2 linked regions of the Homo sapiens genome follow. The protein of the gene in region 1 purifies or fractionates together with the protein of each later gene. This does not show direct contact. Each region holds a gene or a part of one and is shown on either strand. Other genes may lie near its edges.

Region 1 (3,500 bases):
TGGGAGGCTACTGCATGTGTGTGTGTGGAAGAGAGATTTCAAGCAGATAACTAACAGGACTGACTGTATTAAAAGACTCATTCTGGCATTTCTATAAAGGAGTAGGGGCAGAAGCAGGGAATGTTAAGAGTGTGTTGCAGTGATCAGTGAGATGTGAGAGTAACTTGGGTTTATTTTGAAAATAGGGTAACAGTGTTTGCTTATGGATTAGATACAGACTGTGAGAGAAAGAAAGGAGTTATCTTCAAGGTTTGAGACTGAAAACACAGTCTCAAACTGTGTTTCAAGGTTTGAGACTGATATCTTCAAGGTTTGAGACTGAAAACACAGAAGACAGGACTTGCCATTTACTAAGATAGGCAAGACTATTTGCGGAGGACATTTATGAGAGAATTTCAGGACCTTTGTTTTGGTCATATTACATATGAGATTTGTATTCCATTGAAACTGTGCAGTAGGTGGTTTAATATGAGAATTGAGTTCAAGGGACTATCATTGGAATAGAAAATGTATTTGAATCCATAAGACTAAAAATTATAGCATTTAGGAAGTGGCTTTAGTTTTTTCAGTATTTCAAGAAAGAGAAAGTTTAAAATTGTTTCAAATGCTTTTGACAGATCAAGTAAGACGAAGACTAAGAATTGATCATTGGACTTTTCAATGCAGCTGTCATTGATGACCTTGGAAAGACTTGTTTTGGCGAAGTGGTAGAGATGAAAACCTTATTTTAGTGTGTTCAAAAGAGAATGTGATGAGTAGAAGTAGTAGGAGTGAGTTTAGACAACTTGTTTGAGAAGTTTTCTATAAAAGTGAAGTATAAGACTATTGGGATAAAATTTAAAGAAAAACTAAGGATTAGCCACTATAGAGTTTCATATCATTATGAGAGTTTTCTTTTTCCTTCTTTTTACCCTGAGTTTCATCTGTGAATTGATTCCCTTTTATTATATGCTCAGTGGAACTCCAGAACAGACTGTTATCATCTACTTAGCACTTCAAAGACTGTTATAATATAAAGGCCCCTCCTTTCCATCATATATCCTGGAGGCAAAGATTAGGAATGGAACGTATCATAGGGTGATATGTCATCCTCCTAGGATGTTCATAAAGCCTTGGACTTTACCCCCTTAGGTCTTTCTCCTAGGTCCTTAGGCACTCATATAGTCAAAGTTTTGATAGTCCAACAGGAATAGAAACAGGTTATATGAGGTTTTTCTTGCACACTCTTTTTTCAGTCAGTAAGCACGTGTTGAATTCCAACTCGGGAATTCCTAGAAAAGAGATCATCCCCCTCTCAACTCCATGGGAGGGAACCCATGCCTCTCTCATTGCAGGTACCTAGACTTCTAGACATGGGCTCATTGAAACTTAGACCATACTTTTTCCTAATCTCCATCTTCTTTAAGCCCCTGCCCAGCCCCAAAGTTTGAGCTTTACCTTGAGGTCCAGAACGCTGCTGTTGAGTTCTTTGTTCTCTGATAAAAAGCCACAGGATGACCCCAAGAAGGATGAGGAAGATAGTAACCAACAAAGTTGGGACGATAATCACTTCATACTGCTTCTCCTGGATGACTGGGTAGGCGATCACACAGGAAGAGAAGAGAATGAAGAAGCCTAACCTGGTGTTCATGCAATTTCCCCTACCCGCCAGCTCTCAGCTCATCATACATGAAAAGGTCATCTCTTCTACCATCTCCTCTACTTCCATTCAACAGAAACACTGCTGGGAGCAACTCTCTAACCAGAAACCCCAGTGACTCTGTTTCTTAGCCCATCAAATGTGCATGACGTTGCTTCTGGCAGTTTCTTACCAAGATTGAAGATGCAGCATCTGGATCACTGATTAGCACTTACCCTCTCCCCAAAAAGACAATGGCCTCTAGTCCCCATCCTTTTATCACCACTGTCTTCATTTCTACTGGAAATCAAATCATCCTCCTTCTAGAATCTACCGAGACCTTAGCCTTCATAATTCTAAAATCAGAGGATAGACATCTGTGGAATCCGTACTTACCACACAACTTGTCACTGAGACTGCATTCCAGGAGCATCCGTGTCATGCCCATTGCCACAGGGCTGTCCCCTTCCCTGCTAGGCCCACAGAGAATGCACACAGCACAGCTGTGAGTAATTCCTAAGGATTGAGTGGTTTTTGAAAAAAATAAAATGAATGAAAAAAAATAAATGAAGTACACACAGAATTTTAAACCGCCTCTACAGATCACTAGTTAAGTAAATGGCTACCTCTCTGAGTCATCCGTTTATCTCTATCTACCTAGCTGATATTCAGGTTGGAAGAACCCTCCCAACCTTCTCTTCCTCTCAGCGTTTCTCTTTTCTCTATTATACAGCAAAGAGCTCTGATCTGCTCTTGTCCTTTCATTCAACTGTTACTGAAATTATTTTAAAGTCTCCCCTCCCACCCGAGACTTCTGCTCCCATGATCAAGTACAGATTCAAAACATCCATCTGAACTGTGATCCATGGGTTATGTGGGCATGATCTACCTCCCCTACAGTATTAAGCATGTCTAATATATTTTTTTTAGCTGTGCATCATATTTTTTAAGCAAAACATTTTTTGAAGTTGGGATCTTGCTCTGTAGCCAGGCTTGAGTGCAGTGGTGTGATCATGCATGGCTCATTTAAATCTCAAACTCTTGGGCTCAATTAATCCTCCTGCCTCAATCCCCTGAGTCTCTGGAATTACAGGCATGAGCTACCATTTCTAGCTCTAAAGAAAACATTTAATTTCATTTTTACACACAGTTAATTCAGATAACAAATAAAAAATTGACAGATGTCGAAGGATATGAGTTACACATTTGCTTTGTTTCTCTGAAATATCCACACCCTCACAAGCAGTGAACAGACAGCATTTATCAATAAAAACTATTTAATTCCTCATCCCTCAGAGCTTCAAGGTGCTTCCTCTGCTCATATCAGATATAGACACGGACACTCATTGCTACAAGGATATAAAGGAAGTATCAGTACCAAGCCACCTTCTCTTTCTCTTTTAAATAAAAAGAAAATACATTCATATGATTCAAAAAATAGTAGTGTAAAATTGTATAGCATAAAAATATTTCTCCCCCCCATTCTTCTCCATTTATCCAGTTCTTAACTCTCCTCCAGTCTCCTCCAAGTAGACTCTAGTTATTAGTTTCTTGTTTGTCTGGCAAGGGATTCTTTATGTGTATCACTGTTAAGTCTATATAATATAATCAGTACATATTTCAAATAACAGCCCTAGAAACTTGGTTCTTTCTTTCCAAAGAGAACTCATGTTTACCACTGTCCCATACCTCTCCTAAATTTATATTTTGCCTTTGCTTGACAAGACACTCCCATGGTTCTATAGTCAACAAAGCCTACTTCTTTAATTCTGATTAACTTGAAAGAAAATATGATTTTCTGCTAAATAAGTCTAAATATGTGATCCAGTTTTGTAGTGACTTGATAAAAACATAAAACAAAAATCAGAAGTATAGCTTATAT
Region 2 (3,500 bases), on another chromosome or scaffold:
AATGTTGCTAGTAGTTTGTTCTTTCCATCAATAACAGCAATCTGGAGTGCCGTTAGCTAAAGGAACTTTGATTACCCACTGCTACAAAGATCTTGGATTCATGGATTTCATTTGCAGTTTGGTGACAAAATCTGTGAAGGTGAGCAGTCTGTTTCATGAGTATATAATTTTATGAAAAGATTGCTTGCTTTGAATGAAGAAAACATACTAAAACATTCCCTAATAACAATGATACTTTGGATAAATTTATTTTGTTAAATGGTCTGGTGTTTTGAAGCAGGAGCAGTTTGAGAGTCCGTATCTTTTTTTTTTTTTTTAAGAATCAGTCTTTTATCACCAAAGGTGTTTTTCTACAAAAATAAATGTCTATTCCTTGCCAGATTCTAGTTACAGTGACTATTCAAAGAGAGTGTCTAGAAATGTCGGGAATATTCAACCTGGGAAAGCTGTTTAAAAAATTTTAAGGCCAGGTGCGGTGGCTCACGCCTGTAATCCCAACACTTTGGGAGGCCAAGGCAGGCGGATCACTTGAAGTCAGGAGTTTGAGACCAGCCTGGCCAACATGGTGAAACACCGTCTCTACTAAAAATACGAAAATAAACTGGGCATGGTGGGGCATGCCTGTAATTCCAGCTGCTCGGGAGGCTGAGGCAGGAAAATCGCTTGAACCTGGGAGGCGGAGGTTGCAGTGACCCAAGATCATGCCACTGTACTGCAACCTGGGCGACAGAGACTCCATCTCAAAAAAAAAAAAAAAAAATTTTTTTTTAAATAAAAATGTTAGGAATATCATTAGGCAGTTAATTGTTGTCACATTGTGTATTCATTGTTGCATATGGTAATTCAGGAGAGCTGTAAATATTTATTTGGCCTTTCACTTTTTTTTTTTTTGGAGACATGGACTTGCTTTGTCGCCCAGGCTAGAGTACAGTGGTGCCATCATAGTTCATTGAAATCTCAGCCTTGAACTCCTGGCCTCAAGCAATCCTTCTACCTCCCTTTCACTGTTAAATGTGTTTTGTTTGTGTTCCTTGTTTCAGGTTTTTGCTGAGTACCCGGGCAGCTCAGCTCAGTTGAGGGTGCTCTTGGCTTTCTATGCTTCTACCATAGTGTCGGCGCTGGTAGCTGCAGAGGACGTATCAGACAATATCATCGCCAAACTATTTCCCTATATCCAAAAGGTTGGCACTGCTGATGTGTTAAGTAGATTATTTTGTACTTAAAGGAATTTTCTTGCTTTCGAAAGTTTTTTTAGATTTAAGTGTTTTTAAATTGACAGTTTATTTCAGATGATAGCTGAGATTTAGCCTTTAGGTTGAAAATATGACACTTTTTTATTAGAAACTCACTGGCCTGGGACCTTAATTAGGACTCTTAAGAATAAATATTGGCTGTCTGGTCCTGCGGCCATCTCCTAGATTGATTTCCATAGCAGTCTTTGTACCTCACTGGAAGGAGGACGGAGCAGACAGTCTCTTTGAGGCGTAAGCAACCTCTCAGTATTCTTTGTGCACTGGCTCCTGCCTCTCAGCGTTTCTCCTTCCCAAGTGCCTTCTTGCCTGCTGCCTTCCCAGGTGCCCTGTGGAGGTACTGCTTTCACTTCCCACCAGTGTCCCAACTTGTGACCTTTCATCAGACTTGTTTCTTCCATTAGTGATCTGATTGAGGTCTCCCTACTATAAGTAGGATTTTATGTATAAAAGAAGAGCTTACTGGCTCCTGTCAGGACATGTGGTAGATGTTTGAGTTGGGAAATTTTCTGAGATCCTTTGTCTCGTTCAACAGACTTGTCTCATCTCTGTATCCACTCTGAAAAAGGGGTCAGCTCCTTTATTGTTTATGTCTGAAGAGTGATTGACTATGCATTAGGTTGTATTAATCTCTATGACATTTCTAATTTGTCAGATTAACATTTAAAGTAGCAGAAAATAATATGGTTTATCATTTTTCCTTATATTTAAAAAATATTTAGGGATTGAAATCATCTTTACCAGATTACAGAGCTGCAACATACATGATAATATGTCAGATTTCTGTGAAAGTGACCATGGAAAATACCTTTGTGAATTCATTGGCATCACAGATCATCAAAACATTGACCAAGATTCCCTCTTTGATCAAGGATGGGTTAAGTTGCTTGATAGTGCTCCTGCAGAGACAGAAGCCAGAGAGCCTTGGGAAAAAGTATGTACAATTGAATTGAGAAATGGTGCTAGTCAGAGGTGAATAAAATTATTTTGAATAATTTTTTTTTGTAAGATAAGTGATTATATATTTTCTTATATTGTTACTCATTGTCTAACTTGTAAAGTCAACACGATATGTACTTTTGCTTCTTCAAAGGCCATTCCCTCACTTATGTAATGTTCCTGATCTTATTACAATACTTCATGGGATTTCTGAAACTTACGATGTCAGTCCTCTTCTGCATTACATGCTTCCCCATCTGGTCGTCTCCATCATTCATCATGTTACAGGTGTGTGGTTTTATATTTTTTGTCCAGAAATTTTCTAAGATTTGATCTTAAAATAGTAACCATATCCTGGTTAACAGCTTCAAAATATTTAAAATTTCTGTTTTCCAGTTGTTCTTGTGTAACTTGTCTATTTCTTAAGTGAGAAACATCTGGGGTGGGGAGCAGGTTGGTTGAAGAAAGATCATTGTTAATTGAGTAATTTCTTAGAATTTTACTTTTTTTAAGATCTGTGTTCTTAAATACTTAAATAGTCTCTACATGAAAAAGACTGGAATACTTTTAAAATTTATTACTGAGTAAACCTTTGCCTTCTCATTTAGGTATTTAATGAACTTTAGTGATTCATTTATAATGAATATCTCATCCAGTTGCCAAAAAAGTTTTTTCCCTAGAGTAATTAAAAATATAAGACCAAGAAAATTTTTATACATAAAAATCCAAATTATGAAACAAAGCAAAAAGCAAAAAGTAATAATTAGAGGGCCAGGTGGCTCAAACCTATAATTCTAGCACTTTGAGAAACTGAGATGGGCAGATCATGGCAAAACCCCGTCTCTACAAAAATATACAAAAATTAACCGGGCATGGTGACATGCAACTGTGGTCCCAGCTGCTCGGGAGACTGAGGTGGGAGGATCACCTGAGTCCAGGGAGTTCGAGGCTACAGGGAACTGTGTTTGTGCCACTGCAGTTCAGCCTGGGCGACAGAGTGAGACCCTATCTCAAAAATAATAATAATAATTAGAAAGTGATTATTTGCATTATGTCTTTTAATAAATACAGAAAGGCTAGGAAGAAACATTTGGTTCTGTTGCTACTTGGAGAATACTAAGAAAGACTTCTCTAAACTTATGTCAGTCTACTGAAAAATGAGGTTTTTGTAACCAAATCTTGGTTTGAACATGCATTTTAGAAAAGTGACTAGCAAAATGAAAATGTATTCTTCCTATTCTGAAGGTAATGAGTAATGTCCCAGTCTTTGAAAGCAAGGGCTAAGATCAGATTCATATGTTTATTATAAAT

The links. Proteins that work in one complex are often made in the same cells at the same time.
Region 2: the proteins of STYK1 (region 1) and HEATR1 purify together in Homo sapiens (affinity purification with mass spectrometry; one large-scale study listed by BioGRID and IntAct). This does not show direct contact.

The regions. Positions count from the first base shown.
Region 1 is NC_000012.12:10,632,553-10,636,052, forward strand, and holds part of STYK1 (tyrosine-protein kinase STYK1), read right to left. Parts: intron 2,135-3,500; 5' UTR 2,067-2,134; coding exon 2,015-2,066; intron 1,573-2,014; coding exon 1,438-1,572; intron 1-1,437. UniProt on the Homo sapiens protein: Probable tyrosine protein-kinase, which has strong transforming capabilities on a variety of cell lines. When overexpressed, it can also induce tumor cell invasion as well as metastasis in distant organs.
Region 2 is NC_000001.11:236,594,517-236,598,016, reverse strand, and holds part of HEATR1 (HEAT repeat-containing protein 1), read left to right. Parts: intron 1-37; coding exon 38-139; intron 140-1,040; coding exon 1,041-1,181; intron 1,182-1,972; coding exon 1,973-2,184; intron 2,185-2,343; coding exon 2,344-2,477; intron 2,478-3,500. UniProt on the Homo sapiens protein: Ribosome biogenesis factor; required for recruitment of Myc to nucleoli. Involved in nucleolar processing of pre-18S ribosomal RNA. Required for optimal pre-ribosomal RNA transcription by RNA polymerase I.